2 separate regions of the Homo sapiens genome follow, and region 2 is linked to region 1. Evidence: fine-mapped expression QTL. A gene starts in region 1. The other region holds a variant in brackets. All regions are shown on one strand. Distances are between the middles of the regions.

Region 1 (9,805 bases):
GTTAAATTTGAATATATCATTAGCTTTGTAATTTCAGCATAAAATTGATTTGGTGTGATTGATTTGAAGTATGATTGTCAATGCAATGTTGTTATACCTGCTATAGTACTATAACTGCTGAGGTAAAACCCTTAGCAGTTAAGGCAGTGGATTTTCAAAATATGCGATTAATGTTTTCATAGTTTTTACATAGCACCTGAAATCACCATCACCAAATTTTTCATAATTAGATATTGGTAGCTGTTTTTAAGTGGCACATATGTAGGCACTATGTGTGACACTGAGTTGACTGTAAATGTTGCATTGCACCTTTAATTTGAGGGGAAGTAAAGAAGGAAGGGAAGGAAGCATCAGCAGATACCATTTCCACTTAGCAAACACTATGTCTTGCTTTAGCTATAAATTACACTCAGGTTCTATTCTTGCTTTTCATGCCAAGCTAAAGTGAATCACTCAGTGCAGTGATGCTAATACTTTAAATTATAGTTAGCCAAAAAACCTAGTTATGAAGAAAAGCTAAATTAGTAAATGATAGCAATGTCTGGAACATTCAGAAAAAATATTTTAGAAGTTCATTAGTCAAGGCATTTCATATAAATAAAATATGAGATAAAATCATATAACTTAAGGCTAATGCCTTTTATTAAAGTTTTAGAGCAATTAAATGAAATGCTAGCAACAAACAGAATCCTAGTATATGACTGAATGAAGGTATAATATCTAAAAACACGACAATCTGCATTTCTAATGTAGGGCTGTTTATCCTATAGCCTGTAATTTGTGTCCAGTGATATATATCTGCATATCTGCTCACACTTTCTATGTATGTTTCCTTATTTCTTTAAGTATATAATTTTGTGTTGTAAGACATATCTTGTAATGCAATATTCTTATTTGATTTTCTTTAAGACATGTAAGAGTCAAGTACAAGTAAGATAGGTCTCTTAATAGGAATCTTTTGCGGCGGGAGAGGGGAATATAATGGGAAAAGACTCTCCAAGTAAAAGCAAAAATGACCTTCTTTAGCGTATTTCCACTGTTTTTCAAGTGCAGCAAGAGTAATAAGTCTTGGCAGTTGGAACATGCCATTCACCTGAGGGCTGTCAATCGTTCTCATTTTGAAAGACACAAAACTTATGAATTGTCAACACATCATTTAGGTGAGAAACCAGTGCTCATCAAGAGAAAAAATTAAAACAAATGCTCAAATAAATAGAAAATCAAAATGCTTCCTGGTCATTTTCTTCCAAGAGCTTAATACAGATAATCTACAGTTCATATGCTATAAAAATTGTAACATGTGAGATATGGACAACAAACTGAATGGCTATTACTTTTCCAATGGAATAGAGTCTAGAGAACAATTGCTTGAATTTTTCTTTCTATTCCATATAAAGTAAATTATTTGTCATTGAGCATCCCCCATAAATACAATTATCTAATACTGAAACTGCTGACAGCCTTGTAGGCTATTTCAGTAGTGGAAGCCAGGACTAAACACACTCAACTACATTAGAGGTTGTCCCTGGAGGACAGAATTGAGCTTCATTGGCAAGGGCACCGTAAGAGTTCCATTTGACTCCTCATTAAACCTCTCACAGGGATTCTAGCTGCTTCTCTGTGTCTGCGCTTGCTTTTCTATAGAAGAGATAGATGTGAACCACGTAGGCAAAGATACATTTCTACATATTTAGGAAAAGATCGCTTTTCTTGGTAAAAACTAAGCCTCCTATAGATTTTAAAAAGACCTTCCAGTTTCATGATCATTAACCACCTTTTTATAATTTTCAAAGGAAGTAGAGAGCTTTATTTCAATTTGTGAGAACTTATTTTTCAATGCTTGTTTTATGGCATGTCAGAGATATTATTATTTTTCTGTGTTTATTTTTTCTCCAGGAAAAGTAGCATTAGGGGAAAACAGTTGGTGATAATGATCTCAGCCTTCTTTACCTAACAATGTGGTTGTCATAATGAAATCTGGACCAATATGTAGAAGCAATTGGTGAAACATAAATTACTATATGCACTGTATGTTGCCCCTGGCTGTTTTGTTGATTTGGAGTCTTGAAAATAGCATAATAAGATTTATCATACTTTGGAAGTATTGTATTGAAAAACCAGTCAATAGCTCAAAGAAACACAAAACATGCTCTATGAATTGAAAACCCCACACTGTGGATGACACAGCATTCACATTCTTTATGAGAATCTCTTCTAGGACACTGTTATGGTTTAAGTGCAATAAAAACAAATGAAAGTATTTTATCCAGCAATAGCAATGTAAAATACTTTTCTCTAGAGAGGAAATTTTCTGTGATTATAAAATAATACTTTCAGTCTTCAGCCCATCTAACCACAATGTTACTAATAAAATAACAACAATGCCAATTACTAATGCTTTACTACTTACTGTTTACTGTTATTGTTCCTCCAAAGTGGTCCACATAATATATATATATATATATATATATATACATATATATATATATGCACAAAGACAGAAAGAGCTGAACAAATTGTGATGTATGACTAAGAGAAAAACAGAAAGACGCAGCAGAATATGATTATTTAAAAGGGAGCCTCATTGTGAAAGTTCTTTTAGCATTTACAAGATTAATTTATGATCAGAACTGCTTTAAACGCCCTACGCACATCAGGCAAGGCTATATCCATGTATACACACAGACATATGCATACACACAAATGAATATCATCATACAGACCCATAATTCACAGACACATTTTAAAATTAAATGCTACTCCAAAGAGAAATTGTTGGCATCCTGTGAGTGTGATTGTTGCCCTTGGCCTATATATATCTTATGTTCTAGAGATTAGATCACTTTACAGCCACTTCTGAGGGCGAGTGGGAATAAAATGCTGCTTCAGGAGCGTCAAAATAAAAAGAAAACATATTAAACCAAAGTTCCTATAAGTGCAATCCCAAGGATTAAATGTTCAGATAGCCCGTAAGTCTAACCCAGAGGGAGGGAGGAGCAGTTAACATTTTCTCAAAAGAAAGAAAATGTCCAAACCAATGATGAGTGGACATGAGGGACCTGAAGAGAGCATGTGATGGGAATGTGAAAACAAAAGAAGCTTCTAAAAGAAGACACCAAGGATAATATTCTCACAAAAATTCAGACCATCATTCTATATTTTCATGCATATGAATTTTGGTACATATTTCATGCATATGAAATTTGGTACATATATACATATATGTACCATGCATATACATATGCGTACATATACATATACGTATGCATACACATATGTATCTATGTACACACATACACATATGTGTACACACATATGTACATGCACACACATATGTGTACACATATGTACATGCACACACATGTGTGTACACATATGTACATGTACACATATGTGTACATGTACACATGTGTATATATACATATTCACACTTATGTAAACATATTCAATCTAAAGCTTCCTTAAGACACATACAAACAACAACCAAATGATTAGTGTTTGGCCATTGCTCATGCAGCAAAAGCTGAGTAAACACAGCTCTGGATCCTTTTCTCAGGCCACCACTCCCTAGCTGTGTGACTGACAAAGTCTATGCCTGAACACCTACATTCATGACCAGGGTGGCCTTTCCTGTCTCCTGTTGCCCAAGCATGTCTCAGGTATAAATAAGTTCCAATACTGACAGGGCACAGCAAGGGTAATTTACATGACAATAAGAAATGATTTCTATCTGAACAGTGCATACCAGAGTTGATTTCGACAGACTTATCTTTAAAAAAATACACATAACAAAAAAGGAGACAAGTAGTAGATTGGGGACCCACAGCTTGAAAGTCGTTGCTTGTGATTCTAAAACATCCCAGTAAAATTATTCACAGATAATTGTTTAAAAATATAACTGTACATACCGTTGACACTTGGACAACACAGAGAATCACGTAGTTGAAAATCCACATATAACTTTGAACTCATCAAAACCTTAACTACTAATAGCCTACTCTTGACCGGAAACCTTACTGATAACATAATAAACAGTTGATTAACACACATTTTGTGTTGTATGTATTGTATACTGTATTCTTACAATAAAGTACGCTAGAGAACAGAAAATATTATTAAGAAAACCATAAAGAGGAGAAAATACATTTATATTCATTGAGTGGAAGTGAATTATCATAAAAGTCTTTAACGTCATCCTTTTCAGGCTGAGCAGGCAGAGGAGGAGGAAGAGGGTTTGGTCTTGCTGTCTCAAGGCTGGCAAAGGTGGAAGAAAATCTGCATATAACTGGACCCAACAGTTCAAACCCGTGTTGTTCAAGGGTCATACATGTAAAATACTGTGATTTTTCCCCCTTCTATATTCAGCTTCAGGTGACCCGACACACTTTGGTATCAAAAGAGAATCTGAAATGTACAAGAACTGCGGATTTCAAATGGAAAAGGTGCATAATTGTGCTATTTGTTCCTGGGTGAGTGTGGGACGGAGACGGTGAGAGTGTTGAAATGGGATGGAGATAATGGAAGCAGTGGGGAAGGAGAGAAAATACCCTTCCTATCACACACACTCACACACTCACACTACACACTATTTCTACAGTCACAACTACCCAACTGTTATTGATCCTTTATAACTGCAATTGAGTACAGATGTAGGAAGATTGAGAGGGAACTGGGATCTGGCGCCTGGATTGCTCAAGAGAGGTCAGGGAAACCCCTCAGAACTCCTGAGACCCAGAGATTGAGGGAGGGGTTGAGGCGGAGTCTGCAATGGGGGCTGTCCAGCAGTAGCAAGCAGCGGGCCGATCCTGGTGGAGGGTTGGGAGGCTGCTGTCATTTTATGGGTCGGCAGCCAGAGTGAGAGTGTCCCTGCTGCCAGAGGACTACGGCGGGCTGGGCGCGGGGTCCCCGCCTCTCGCTCACCACACAGACCCCGCGCCTCCTCTGGCAGCCGCGGTGGTGGCGGCGGCAGAGCCTCGCCCACTCCAATCCCCACCCTCTCCATCCTTAGTCATTAAAGAACAGCAGCGCCTGGCACGTTCTTGGAGGACCCCGGGCGCAGAGGAGGAAAGGGAGCAGGCGCAGGGGGACTGGAAAGGCAGCATGCGCTCGCCAGGAGCAACCTCGGCGCCCAGGGTCTGAGGCTGCAGCCCCAGTTCGCCATTGTGAGCCGCCGCCGGGGGAGTCCGCTAGCGCAGCCGTGCCCCCGAGTCCCCGTCCGCGCAGCGATGGGGCACCTGCCCACGGGGATACACGGCGCCCGCCGCCTCCTGCCTCTGCTCTGGCTCTTTGTGCTGTTCAAGGTAGGGGAGCTCCTCCACCCCTTTTTCCCAGCGGTCCGGGCGGCAGCCGCGCTCCGGCGCCCTCGCTCTGCCGTTGGGAGCGGCGCGCCCCAGGGCACGATGGCCCAGCCGCGGGAAGCGCCTGCCGTGCAGCCTGGGCGCACGCTTTGTTGTCCTCGCGTGTGCGTGTTCCTGGTGGTCTTGAGAGGTAGGGGGCGGGGGGAAGAATAAGGGAAGTTTGCTCCCTCCGGCTTTCGCCCTTTGTGCTCTTTTATCGCTGCTGAAATCCACATCAAAGGTGGGCTTGTTGGATCGTGCTTTCTCAGGCAAAATGAGGTCACTTTCTTTTCTGGTTTCCACTGCACCCCAACGCTGCTTAACCTTTCCGCCCTCCCTCGCACAGAATGCTTTGTCTTAATTTTCCTTACTGCTGGAATTATACACTGGAGAGTGGAGGGGGACTGAGCTCCCTGGACACAAATGGACTGCCAGGGCTACGTTAGGGCAGAATTTTCTTTGAATAAGGAGTGTCAGGTAGAGAGCTTGGTAAGGATTCCTCTCCCCAACTCCTATCAACATCTTTACAATTCCTTTTAAAAAGTCTCCAGACTTTCTCCACTATATTTACAGATGATATTACCCCTAGATTTAATGGTGGAAAAATATATAATAATAAACTTTTTCGTATCTTCTTTGGAATGTGCTACCCTGAGGTTTTACTTTGAGAAAAATGAAAAGCAAAGGAGTTGCTTTTGAAAAATCAGTTTGACAACTATACTGTACATAAATTTTTTTGAAGAAATGTCAGCTAGATGTTTTCTTGGACGGCGATGTGAAGTTCTGAAGTGATTGTCTATCACTCATGTCTTCAGTGGATCTACTTTAGTTCTGTTGTTAGTCTTTTCCTCTCTCCGCAAAGCAAACTCAAGAATGTCGACAGGTGACTTGGAGCTATCCTTTCAGGACCACAGTGATACCTTCCCTAGAAATGGATGCCAGGTTAATGGATCCAAAGGTTTTCTTATTATAGAGTCACTTCTTGCTTATATGCACCATTAATTATGAATGCCTAAAAAGAATATAATGGAACAGGACCAATGGATTAAGAACAGCATTACTTTTAAATACTCCATATTTTCATTTATCTTAATGAAAAATATAAAAAAAATTCAGGGAGAAACAGCAACAGAATGCCTAAGTAAGACCTTAAAATATATTTAATATGTTTTAACATTTTTTCTTAAATTATCAATAATCATTAATTTTAAAGTATGGTAAATAATAAGCTCAGTTATATGTTTTTACTGTAGGAGGTTGTTCTTTCATACACATCATAAATGCATTAGACTTATTAGGTTGTCTATTAGTCGTTTTCTAACTATTTATCAAACTGTCACAACTATTTTACCTATGCAATAATTGTCATGAACCAAAAATTAGAAACCAAGTCACTATGCATTTTACGAGCAACAGCTAAGAGTTATATGTATGACATCTGATCCAAACCTAACGTTTAGCACAACTGCAGGTTTTTGCGTGAGTTCTTCATAATGAGATAATTCCAGAAATAAGAGAATGACTTGGTTGGGAGTGGGGGTAAGGTTTTGCAATTAAAATAAAATAAATGTGGCCATTGTTTGACTTAAAACTCGATATTGGAATGAGAAAATGCAGTTAGTGATGGTGTAATGAAAATGTTAGTGATTGTCATAGAGGTCCAGCCTGCTTCACATAATAGGTATATTCCTGAACATTGCAGGTAAATGTAAATTATGGCAAACTGCTTCCATAGTAAATACATTGGCAAAGTTTGCCATTTAAATAATAATTATTGTAGTGGGACACATAATTTTGTAAGAAAAATCATTTTCCTTTATTTTATGTGAATGTAATATTTTTGTCACCTGAATATAAACTATATCAGAGGAAAGAAGAAAAAACTGTATATATTAAATACCTTCTATGTGCTGGTTTTTTAGGCATTTTACATACGTTATTTCATTTAATCCTATTTTGCTGCAGTTGACAAGAGTTGTTCAAAAAAAATGGTAAATTGGGCACACAGTGTAATATCTTACATTTAGAGGATAGTATATTACATGGTGCGTTGGGCACATGGTATAATCTCTTTATAATTTGGAGATATTTTTGAATTAAAGGTCCTGATTAAGTGCCAGTAAAACAGATCTACTCAAGCAGGTTGTGACTGGAGGATGAGAAAAAATTCATTATTAAATACCAAACTGCTAACTGTATCTCAATAATAAAATCCAAAATGTTCCACGTGTGCCGAGTCAGAAATGAAACATTCTCTCAACTCTCCCTTGCCAAAATAATTTCCATAGTTTTCACTATAGTTAATACATTTTTCACTACTCCATATGTGTATCCTTTATATAAGAGTGAAAATTCTGAAGGAAAATAAGACAGAGAAATTCAAGTATGAGGCTTAATTTACAGCTTTACATTTTCCACAACTCAAAAATAAGCAGCTGGATATCAGTGGTGGAAAAGTAGGAAAGTTTGAATGTGTATGAATGGCTATAATCAGTTCCATTGAGGGAGACTAAATGTGACTGGCCAAGAAGGTCTTTGTGCCATCGTTCCTTATCCATGGAGCAGTGATGAGCACATATAATCGGGCATCTCAGACTGTCTAAATCATTCACTGCACATTATGAAGCTAATATCTGCATAATTTATCTTGCCTAAACACAATGTTGGTTATGAAAATTTTTATTTTTATATCAATATTGATGGTGTATATAAAATAGAAGAAAAAATGGAACTCTGTTATTATATTGAAGGCTACTAATTTCAAAGTCTTCTATGGATGAATGCAAGTGAGGTATTTATCTGGCGAGCCTCGCTGTTGTGTGTCTTCCCATAATTCCCAGTGAAAGAAATGTAACTTCCTACACTTGTCCTATCTTTACTAAAGCCCTCCTAGAAAATGTCTTCCTGTATCAGTTTACTCAGTATAAGTACTTTGTCTACTAAGGTGCAAATCGTGGAATATGACATCATAGGAATTTGAAGTTGGCCTTCCCTGAAATGTTGCTTTTTAGTAGTCAGCTGGAATATATTCCTAAACTCAAGTGCTTGGCGTGTGTCCTTCTTTTTTAACCCCTTCTCTCTATTTCTTTCTATTTCTGCTTTTACCAGAGATATCATCAAAGAATATCAAATTTAAAAAGGGTCTTAATATTGTACTTTCTGAAACAGGTTTATATTTAATTCTATAATACATGAGTGTTATGATACTGGCCATTCTACTCTTATCCAGGGGAAATATCTGTTTTCCACGGTCTGTCTGCCTTTCCTTTCCTATGTCTCCCCTCGCAACCCCATACACACACACAAAGAAGTTTCACTTTTCGTGGTTGAGGTTTCATCCATAAATTGCACAGTGTTGGCAGGTGAACCATAATCCTTTCATTTTGCTGGAGCAGCTTAGATCCTTTCCATCACAATGAAGTTTGCTGCCCTTAACTCCCATGTCATCTGACTCCTTTAATAAATCATATTGCCAACCTTTTGGAGAAACCTTTTTACATGTGACATCCCCAGTAGGTTGGCAAAGGCTCCCTGGGCCATGCTTCTACAGATGATCGAGTAATAATCCTTCCCACTGTGAACATATGTTTCCTTTTGTTCTTTGTTTTGTGAGAGACTATCGTTGTGTGAAGGAATGAAAAATTCACATTACACCTCTGCCTCATTTTGGCCCAAAAGAAAATGCACATTTATGTGGATAACTGATTAAAAACAATATGAGTTGTACTTTATTTTAAAATGTAACACTATTTCTACTATCTAAATATCCAACTTAAAGGTATTTAAACGTATAAGCAGATTTACTCCTGAACCTTATAAATATAATTCTAACTTGAGGGGTTGTAAAAGAATGTTTGATGTCAGATACAGTTGATGCACTTAAGTAAAACATTGTAATTGGTAGCAGTGTGGCACAATAGAAGGCTTAACAACAATGACCACAAGTTTTCATTTTCCCCTAATTTAATGCCTCTCCGTACACAGTTTCAGTGATGTTGCATTTTCAGAAACATATCCCAGTGCAGTGATGAGCTTTACTGTAAAGCACTTAATGTTTTCATTTAATTACTCCAAATATGTTGTAAATATTTTTGAAATAAAGGAATGTCTACTGTAATATTTCTATCTTTCATGGTGCTAGTATGTGGTGTTAGGAATTTAATAGAAGGTTAATAAACAGATTTAAATTTTCTGCATTATATAAAAGCTCTGACTGAGAATTATGAAATATTGTAATATTGACTTGTGAACACATCTTTAAGGAAAATATAGGAAAATTATCATTATGGGAGTTAAATAATCATAACTACAATGCACTCATTACATTCAAATAGTAAAAATTTTACCAATCACTTATATTAGAATCTTATTAAAACCATAAATTAAAATATCAGTTATTTTTCCCAGAAATGTAATATTCTCAGTTGCTCATTTATTCATTAATGTTACCTCACCTCTGTTTAATGTTA
Region 2 (9,805 bases), 280 kb after region 1:
TGGTCATTCTACTTCAAAGAAATTGAGCCAGCACTATCTGTACTCCAACATTACCGGATCTGGATTGGGGAGGTTGGTCAGGGAAGAGAGGGGTTCTACCCACAGATCAACTGTGTAATCTTTTACTATTCAAGCTATAATTCAGCTTCAAAGTAGAGTAGAAAAAAAATTGTCTTAACTGTTCTAGTTCTTGATGGTTTTCTTCCTTATTAACAGTTGGTGTTTCTTCCTTGGCCCTTTTGGACTAATGTTACTGTCCAAGTTCTTTCTCAAGAAACCACATCTGGTTCAGAAGAGTGTCAAGTTGGACTCTTTGAACTCTGTTGCTGTCTGAGCAATCGTGGTGCCTAGACTTTGCATTCCTTGTTCTGTTGACCTGCATACATGTGAGAGCTATTTCTTTAAGAACTATATAGGCTGTGAAAACGCACTTTCTTTCCCCCAAAGAGCTGGGAATTTATGAAGTTATGGCAATGAACTGCAGCATGCTGGGACAATTATTTGACTACTTTTTTTTGTAATATTGTCAAATGTCTCTATGGATTCTGACAGAGATTTCTTTTTGTTTTGTTATTCTTTTGGTTGTCAGTTTCATTTTAACGAGTGTAACTAGTAACATTTTATTCTTTGGATTTTGTATAATTACAGTACATGATTGTGTATTGTGACATGAATGCTGTCAAAATGACATTGATGGCATTGTGAAGCCTGTTACTTTGTGTCACTTCCTGATAAATAAGAGGTGATGACATGGATATACAACAGAAAACACTTTGAGTTGAAAGTAAACACAAGCTGGCTGCTTCCCTGTGGCAACTGTGGCTATTGTGAGCCTCCGTGTGTGTGCTTCCAGGAGGCTTTGCTCCTCTTCATGCACCCGACACTGCCCCTTCCCTGGCTTCCCTCCATCCCTGATCATCTTCATGAAGCCACAGATATAAGATCAGCTTAATATTTTATCAGTGACCTTAGTGTTGGTGAAGGATGCCAAATGAACAGCTCTGCACCCCACCGTCTCTTGTCACTGAAAAGGCTTGGCCATGGCAGACCTTGGCAGAGTTTCTTGCAAGATCTGGCCAGTGAGTCTCAGTTTCACCTTGCAGGGTGAATGGCAGAGGATGCCCATACCCTGCAGGTTAACAGCTTGGGCTCCTCAGGGGTTGTCAGTTCCTACTCACCTCCCTGCTACCACCTCCTCCTCTTCTTCTCACCCCCGACTCCTTTATTTCCCTTTTTGGACATTTTAATAATGTGTCGCACCATTCTCAGGAACAAACATGGTTAATGAAAGGTGGCAAAGGGATGTGTGACATTCTTAGATTTTCACACATGGGCAGTCAGGAGTGAAATGTGCAACCTTGGAAGAGCTGATACAATGTATGGTAAGCTGAAGTACGTTTCCAACACTGCTGCTCAGAGCATACAGAAGTTTTGCATCCTGGAACATTGCTTCCCATGAAACAAAGCACTTCATAAATATTTTATGTTTTTCTTGAGCACCCTTTCAAGGTAGGGATCAAATAGTGCCAGATCAATTTTCCCAAAAGGAAAGAGGAAGTATCCAGAGTTTAGACTGAAGGCTTAGAGTCAAAACTACAGGAAGGTCACACTGTTCTCTGGAACACTGTTGCTCTTCAGTTTGTAGAGTTTATGATGGAAAAGGCATCAGTCTGTCAAAAGACTTGTTTAATCCTGATAATGACTTTGGAATTATCTCTCCTGGGTCTCAGTTAATAAACTGAAGAATGACCTAATCATAACTCCATATCTTGCAACAGGTATAAGAAGTATCAGATACGATAATTGACCCAAAGGTGCTTTGTGTCTTGTTCTCTCATGTATGTTCCGTAAGGCTACTCTAACCAGTTCTGTTTCCACACCAGGACCCAACTTTAAGCATTCAGAAGGGAGGCTTCCAGAGCCTCTGTATTATTAACTAGGGTTTTTAAAATTCATTTGAGTAATGCTTTGTTCTAAAAGAACACAGGGGCCTTAGTGCATGTGTTCATAATAGCCTGTATGGCACACAAAAAGATCTAAAAACTTGAGCGTTACAAAACATTTCATTTTGAGTGCTATTTTTTTTTTCTTTTTTTTTTTGAGACAGATCCTCTCTCTGTTGCCCAGGCTGGGGTGTATTGATGCAATGGCGTGACCTTGGCTCACTGCAACCTCCACCTCCCAGGTTTAAGCGATTCTCCTGCCTCAGCCTCCTGAGTAGCTGGGATTACAGGTGCGTGCCACCACGCCCAGCGAATTTTTTGTATTTTTAGTAGAAACAGGGTTTCACCATGTTGGCCTGGCTGGTCTCAAACTCCTGACCTCAGGTGACCCCCCCACCTCAGCCTCCCAAAGTGCTGGAATTACAGGTGTGAGCCACCACACCAGGCCTTGAGGGCTATTGAGATCAAATTCCTTGGCTGCAAAAGATAATTTATGAAGTTAATTGAGAAACTACCATTAGGATCTAATTAATAAATGTAATAGTTGACAGCAGTATATCCATTACTTCATATGATGATTTCGTTTAACTTGAAAAAAGTGATGGATGACAGCATTTTTTGGAAAAGCATTTTAATTCGGGGTCTACAATTTCCCACTGTAAAGACAACATTGCCTCCAAAATGTAAAACTAGAAAAGTTACTACTTTTTTTTAATGTCAGATTTTATAATGTCTCTCCTTTCCTAAAAGCTGTTCCTACTCCCAAAAAGGTGACACAGCTCTCAAATGAGGCTGTGGTGTCAACAGGCAAAGCAGGATCAGATGCTTTGGATTTGAATTTTCTGCAGGCTACTTGATAGCTGCTTGCTAGAGGATTGGCCCTTAGCCAAGGAGTTAAAGTTACTGAGTCCAACCTCTAAGAGCCAAAATTCTCCCTGCTTTCTAGCAAGGAGGCCTTCCTTTACACCTCAGGAAATGTCTGATGTAATGTGCTTCAAATAGCTGGCTCGCTTCCTAGCTCACAGATCTCTAGTCTGGTACTTGGCACAGCGATGAAGTCTGAGAGTCATGCCCATCGCTGATTATAACATTCACTTTGGCCAAAGGGGTTATAAAGCAACAAAATATAACATGCAAAACCTGCAGACTTCCACCCCTGACTTTTAATAGCCTCATTTGGAACCATTTGAAGGAAATTTCAGCTGTGACATCTCTGACCCCTGGCCTTCCAGAACAGTAAGATTTTTTGCTTTTAGTTTTATCTGGTGATTATCACAAGGCCTTTTCCTGGTGGGTCACTGGATTAAAGATGAAGTATAAGGTTTAACTCTGGGAGTTGCATTACAGGAGGGTCATGAACAGACTGAAGGCTGTCCAGACATTGTCACTAGAACCACCGGAAATGTGGAGAAATAACAGGTTATGATAACAAAACCTGGGAAAACTGGGGCTATTAAATCTGGAGTAAAGGAAGTCATTTATTGAATCACTCAGTCAACAAATGTGTGTTTATCTAATCATATTGTAGGAATCACTCAATCAATCCATCTAAGGTTTCTTGACCACTTGCAATATGCTAGGCCCTATGGTAAGCACAAATATGAAGGCTTTTAAAAATAGGCTATATAATCAGTTTTAATACTGTTGTTGGAATGTTCAAGAAAGCCTTAGCCAAGTCTTTTTCAACATTTTTATTTATATCTTCCAAAACTTCGTCAACATATCTTCTGGACATACTCACCAGCCATCATATTTAATGATGTTCAATATTTTCCTCAATGGCTTATATAACAGAAACAACAAATGTTCATTGTTTTTTTACTCATAAACCACTAGAAAGCCTGACATGATCGCTCTTGCTTGATGAGAGTCACCAAACTAGTCCTGCCCTCCTGCTCATAACAAGAGTCTCCTCCACCGTGTTCCTGGTGGATGGCTAATTCTTTTCTACAGAACACTTTTAGAGGGAGGAATTGCTTCTAAGGTAGCAAAGCATTTTTTCTTTTGTTTACACATCCAAGGACCTTACTAATATTAAGAATGTATGAGTCTGTGCCCCTCATGGGCATAGGCTTGAAGCCCAAATCTACTTCCCCATCTTGGAAAAAAAAAAAAAAGATCAGGTTCTGTGGCTGCTTTGAATACCGGACTGGCTTCTCACTTGGCAGCAAAGGAGATGGCACCTGACTCAGGGAGCAATGGGGGTTTCTTTCTAATGTGCTAATCCCTTTATGTTCATATCCTCAACTTCAAAACATCATTAGGAAGTGAGAATACTCATTTCCCAGGTGACGAAGTTGAGAGACAATAAGGTGAAGAGGCAGCGTAGTTAAATTACAACTACAGGGTTAGAAAGTGGCAGAAGCAGGATTCCCGGCCAGCTCTGCCCAGCCCTAAACCTTTTCCCCCACAACTTCATGCTGTTTCTCGTTCATACTTAGCATGGATAAAGTGCAGTAGGATGGAATTAATAGATTCATCTCCAGGTAATGTGTTTAATATAGAGGGCAGACATTCAATTTGAGAAATGGTAAATCTCTAACCTTCTAA[G/T]AAAATCATTTATTTATTGAACCTTTCATGCCAGGCACCGTAGAAGGGGCTATGGCTATGAAGATGGATGCAACAAGATTCTTGCTTCTAGTTTACATTCTAATAGGGGAAATCAGAAGTAAAAATAAGGGCAACAAAGTGTAACAGACACCGTGATAGAAACACAAAAAGTATCCAATATAGGTCCAAGGGAAGGATAGGTGATCTTTTTTTTCTAGAAGGGTCAGGAAACACTATACTACTATATTAAAGTACTAATAACTATAGGGCCACATTAAGCAATACTAAAGAGGAACATTCATTGCTCATTCAGCAAACATGAAACACCCAGTATGCATCAGTCACTGGGGCCCATATGGATGACTAATCCTCCCACCCTGCCTTCTGAACCTATTCTTCTTGGCACCTTCCAAGGGGACCATTTCTCTTAAGATGTCCACAAACAGCTCCAGCTCATGTATCACTCAGCAGAATCTAGTGGATTTACTCTTACTGCAAACCTAACAGAGCATACTGGGACTACTTTTCAAGACCCTTTGCAGAGTTCTGGGCAATGGAATGTGTGCTTCCTGGCCTCTGGACCATGAAAATTACCCAGGAGCAACCTTCCATTCCACCCTCCCCCACCCCTCTTCTTTCTTGTCTCTCTCTCTCTGTGTGTGTGTGACTGTGAATGTGTGTATGTCTCTTTCTCTCTCTCCCTCTCCTCTACCCCAACACAGATGGTGGTGCCACAGATAGGAGGACTCTGGGTCCCTGAATCACCACTTGGGGCAGGGATATCTGGTAGCATTGGCCCATTATGTGATCAAGAAATAGATTTCTATTGCATTGTCACTGAAACTTGGTCATTGTCAGTTACAGCAATCAACCTGCCCTTAACTAATATGGCAGCACAAGGATAACCTTTACAACAATGTTCCATCTAAGTTACAATAGGAAGTTTTCAGAGCAATGGTGTGTGACTGCCCAGTAAAATTCCCAGAAGACAGTTAAAGATGAAGCAGTGCAGAGCAAAGTAAACCCACAATGCAAAACAAGGGTTCAGGAAAGGCCACAAAAGCAATAATGGTTCCTTTAATAAATAAACTTTTTAACAGAAATATATGAATTCTTCTTTATAAGTTGTTTTCCTCCAGGTTAGATCTCTCCTGATCTTTTGGTTGTCATTGCTTTTCACACCCCATCATAAGACCATGACTCAGGACACCCACTAGAACTTCTTACCCTTACACTAGGCCATTGCCTCTGAATCAGACTCCTGGATTCCTATTAACAATATACCCCAAAGTGGTTTCACATCAACAAAAGCTCACACATACAGGAGCCCATGAGGCTTGGTGTTTGGAGTGATGCTGGGCAACCCAATCCTTTACATTTTGTGCGTGTCCTGGTGCGTTCCAGGGCCATGGTCACAGTTCAAAGCCAGCTGACACGAAATATTTTTGTTCAGTTCTAAGAGCACCAAAAAGTTCAAAGGGCAGTTTAAACTAGAAAAAGTTAACTGTAACCACTACATCCTTTATAAATATAAAACAGGATGGTCTTAGAAAGGTTCCTTCATGTCCAAAACCAAATTAGATCATATTGCCCCTTAACCAATGAACTTGGGAAGTGACACAGGACAGGGTCCAGCAGGACAGCAGAGCAGAGGGGCTTAGAATAAGGGACTGTGGTTGAAGAGAGGCTTGAGCTAAGTCTCTGCTCCTGACTACATATAACTCAGTCATCTAATCTATGAAATGACATCCTGATGGTAGCTTTCACATAGGGAGTCTTAGTCAGGGCTGCTGTAACAAAGCACCATAAACTAGGTGGCTTTAAATATTTCTTACGGTTCTGGAGGCAGTAAGTCCAAGATCAAGATGCCAGCATGGTCGGTTCTGGTGAGAGCCCTCTTCTGGGTAGCAGACAGCTGCCTTCTTGTATGCTTACATGGCAGAAACAAGGCAAGAGAGCTCTCTGGGGTTCCTTTTATCTGGGCACTGATCCTATTCATGAAGGTTCCACCTTTATGATATAATTACTTCCCAAAGGCCCCACCTTCTAATATCATTACATTAGGGATTAGGATTTCAACATATGAATTTTGGGGGCAAATTCAGTCCATTGCATAGGGCATCAGAAGATAACATGTGTAAGGATCTGAAAACAATACCAGGAATAGTTTAGTACATTACATACCACCCTGTTACAAGCCAATCTCCCACAGTCTCTAAGGGCCATCCTGATAGTCTTCAATAGACTTGGTAAGAGCATCTGAAGCTGGTATCTGACCTAGACTGACTGGGTTTTTCCAGGGTGACACCTGAACCCCCTCCCCTGGCAGCTACCCTCACAGTCACAGACCTTGGAATATAAAAGAGGTATAGTCTGTGACCCAATGTGGATGACCTTGTGTCATAGGCATTTGATGCAAAAGCAGAAGCTAGTGTTCCAGATAAGAGTCCTGGATTTCCCAGGCCTGGATTTCCAATTCTTTACTAGCAAATGTATTACCAATGTGTGTGTTTTATGTCCAGTGTATGTAATCTATGCTAGCGGGTTTCCCAGAAAAGCAATGTCAGCACCTAATTTACATTCCATGAAGATGTCTGCAGCTGTACAGATAATCTGCACAAATTCCTTGCACTAAAACTATATCTAGAGAGCTGACTGCTTCTAAGACAAGACAGCCAATTTGTACAAACCTTAATATGTACATACGCCTGGGTCAAGTTAAGAAGAGATGCTTGGCGTGAACAGACACCGCTTGTGAGCACCACTTAATCCCTCTGTGAACTGGTTTCCTTGTTTGTTAATGGCAATAATAAGAGCCTCCTCCACAGGGCTGCACTGAGGATTAAATGTAAAGCCCTTGGCATGGTGCCTGGTGGTCTGAGGGTACAGAATGGCATAATTGAGAAAGTATAGTCTTCAGAGTCACAGAACTCTGTGCTCTTATGCTGACTAGCAGTGTGGCCTTGAGAAGTCACCTACTATTTCTCAGCCTAAGTGTTCCCACAATAAAAAAATAATATCTACGTTTTCAAGTTGTGGTAAAACTTATAACTGGTTGTGTAAAGCACCGGCCAAAAACCTGGCAGAGTCAGCATAGCATAAATGCAGTATGATTCTTCAAATTTCCAAATCTCTCCCTCTCTTAGTGCATTTAGGCCACCAAACCCACCTACTCCTTTCAGTACCAAGACATCTACAGAGTGAGTGTGCCCCTTTGATTTCTCAGTCCCACATGGGCGCCCTTAGCATGAGCATGCCCCCTACACAAGGTCAGCTCCCAGAGCAGCAGTAACAACCCAACCCATGAAGTGCTGCCACACTTGGAGTCAGCAGCTCCCGTAAGAGGCAGAGGTTTGGCCAGGCGCAGTGGCTCACTCCTGTAATCCCAGCACTTTGGGAGGCCAAGGCCAGCAGATTACCTGAGGTCAGGAGTTCAACACCAGACTAGCCTGGCCAGTATGGTGAAAATGCGTCTCTACTAAAAATATATATAAAAAAATTAGCTGGGCGTGGTGGTGCATGCCTGCAGTCCCAACTACTCGGGAGGGTGAGGCAGGAGAATCGGTTGAACCCAGGAGGCAGAGGTTGAAGTGAGCCGAGATCACGCCACTGCACTCCAGCCTGGGCGACAGAGCAAAACTCCGTCAAAAAAAAAAAAAGAGGCAGAAGTTTTGTTTGCACATACATGTCACATATTGGGGTGGAAAACTCAGTTGGAAAAAATAATAAAAGAATTTGGAAGCATCCAGGCAATTTCAGATATCTGTTTTAATTTGCGTTCTGTAAATCCACTGCGCTGTCACCAAGGTATAACAATAGTCATTTTCTCATTCTTTTTTTTTCCATTTGCTGCAATGCAAATGAAACAAATTACCCAGACTTCCAAATTCCATCCTATAATAAGATTGGTTTTGGAGATGAGGCAATAGACTAACTTCCCTGTGCTGTTTTCCTAATAAAAAGTGCGCCCTTACTTATATACTGCAAGATACGAGGTTGCTACAGGCTATTAACACCATGACCTGCTTACCTTGCAAAGAGCTGTATTTTGTGTGTGTGTATGAGACAGAGTCTCGCTCTGTCGCCCAGGCTGGAGTGCAGTGGTGTGATCTCAGAAGAGCTATATTTTATGAGCTAGCAACAGCTCATGGCACCTGTCTTAGCCTCTTTTAGCCTATGTTCCAATAGCTCTGCTGCTAGGTTCCTTCACTAGTGAAAGACAAATCAATCCTTTTCCCACATACCTCCTAAGAGCTGGAGAGGACACTGTCGTTGTGTTTACTGAATAAACCACACCACAGATTAACTTGAAGCAAATGTATATCTACTCCTAGTTTGGGCCTGGCTATTACGAGCAGGGTTGAGACTAAGATCCAGTAATTTTTGCCCTGATTTCTTGGTATTTTATGTAATGTCGATTCCAAAGCATAAATGTGGACCTATGAGAGAACGTCCAAAGCTAATTTTTCTATCTAAACAAAATAGCGCTTTGAGGAGGTGGTCAGTCATCTGAAATTCCCCACAGATGCAAATGACCTTTGCAACTGAGAATTATATCTCCTGGTTCAACTGCTGCCTGGAACAACCACTGTCCAGTCTACCTTCATGTCCACCCGCAAGGGCCTTCATGGGACCTGGAGTTCCAAGGTCCAGAGATTTCCAAATAAAGCTCCCGGACTCCTCTCTGCATCTTCAGTGCTGATTTTACCTGTGTTATATGGAGGCATACTATATAAAATTTCATTTTTTAAAAAAGTGCTTTTTCTGCTTAAATTGTTGTATACACTGACCTATATAATACATGAGAGAAAAAAAGTTTGCATGATATATAGAAGTCCAAGAAATTGAGTCCAAATTCAGTTGTCCACTTTGTAATCTTTTACAAGCTACCTAACTTATCTGGGTTTCAATTTCCTCTCTTATAAAGTGGGATATATGTGAAAGTGCTCAGCACACATGAATTCAGTTCCTGTTTCCCTTTCCTTAGAATAGATGGGAGGGCAGAAGGCCTTGTCATATGGTACCAGTTCAGAGTAAGAAACAATGAAACAGGACAAACTGTGAAAGATCTAGAGATTTCAATTTCTGGCCAGTTTGTGTGTGCGTGTGCGTGTGCGTGTGTGTGTGTGTGTGTATGCATGTGTGCTTTATTCCATTTTTCCATGGGCTGAAAGGGCCTTCATTTCATTTTTGGAGGAAACAGGAATGATTGAACATGGGGAAATTATATTCTACTCCATATGCAGAGCTTTCCCACCCGAGGCAGCCCAGAAATGGAGCAGGAATTGGGCCAACTGCCTGGGACTACAGTC

Evidence for each region. PIP is the estimated chance that this variant, and not a neighbour inherited with it, causes the effect. A credible set is the group of variants that fine-mapping cannot tell apart.
Region 2: its variant is the best candidate, but not a certain one, in a credible set for the expression of PTPRO in blood mononuclear cells (TOPMed, PIP 0.71).

The regions. Positions count from the first base shown.
Region 1 is chr12:15,317,502-15,327,306 of GRCh38, forward strand. PTPRO (protein tyrosine phosphatase receptor type O) reads left to right here and starts at 5,007. Exons shown (of 27, transcript NM_030667.3): 1 at 5,007-5,300. The coding sequence starts at 5,226. The region is part of intron 2 of LOC105369673 (a long non-coding RNA gene); the gene reads right to left.
Region 2 is chr12:15,596,578-15,606,382 of GRCh38, forward strand. It overlaps PTPRO (protein tyrosine phosphatase receptor type O), which reads left to right. Exons shown (of 27, transcript NM_030667.3): 27 at 1-1,754. Among named protein-coding and RNA genes, the nearest start is that of EPS8, 190 kb to the right of the region's middle. The variant G/T (reference allele first, on the strand shown) is at 4,494.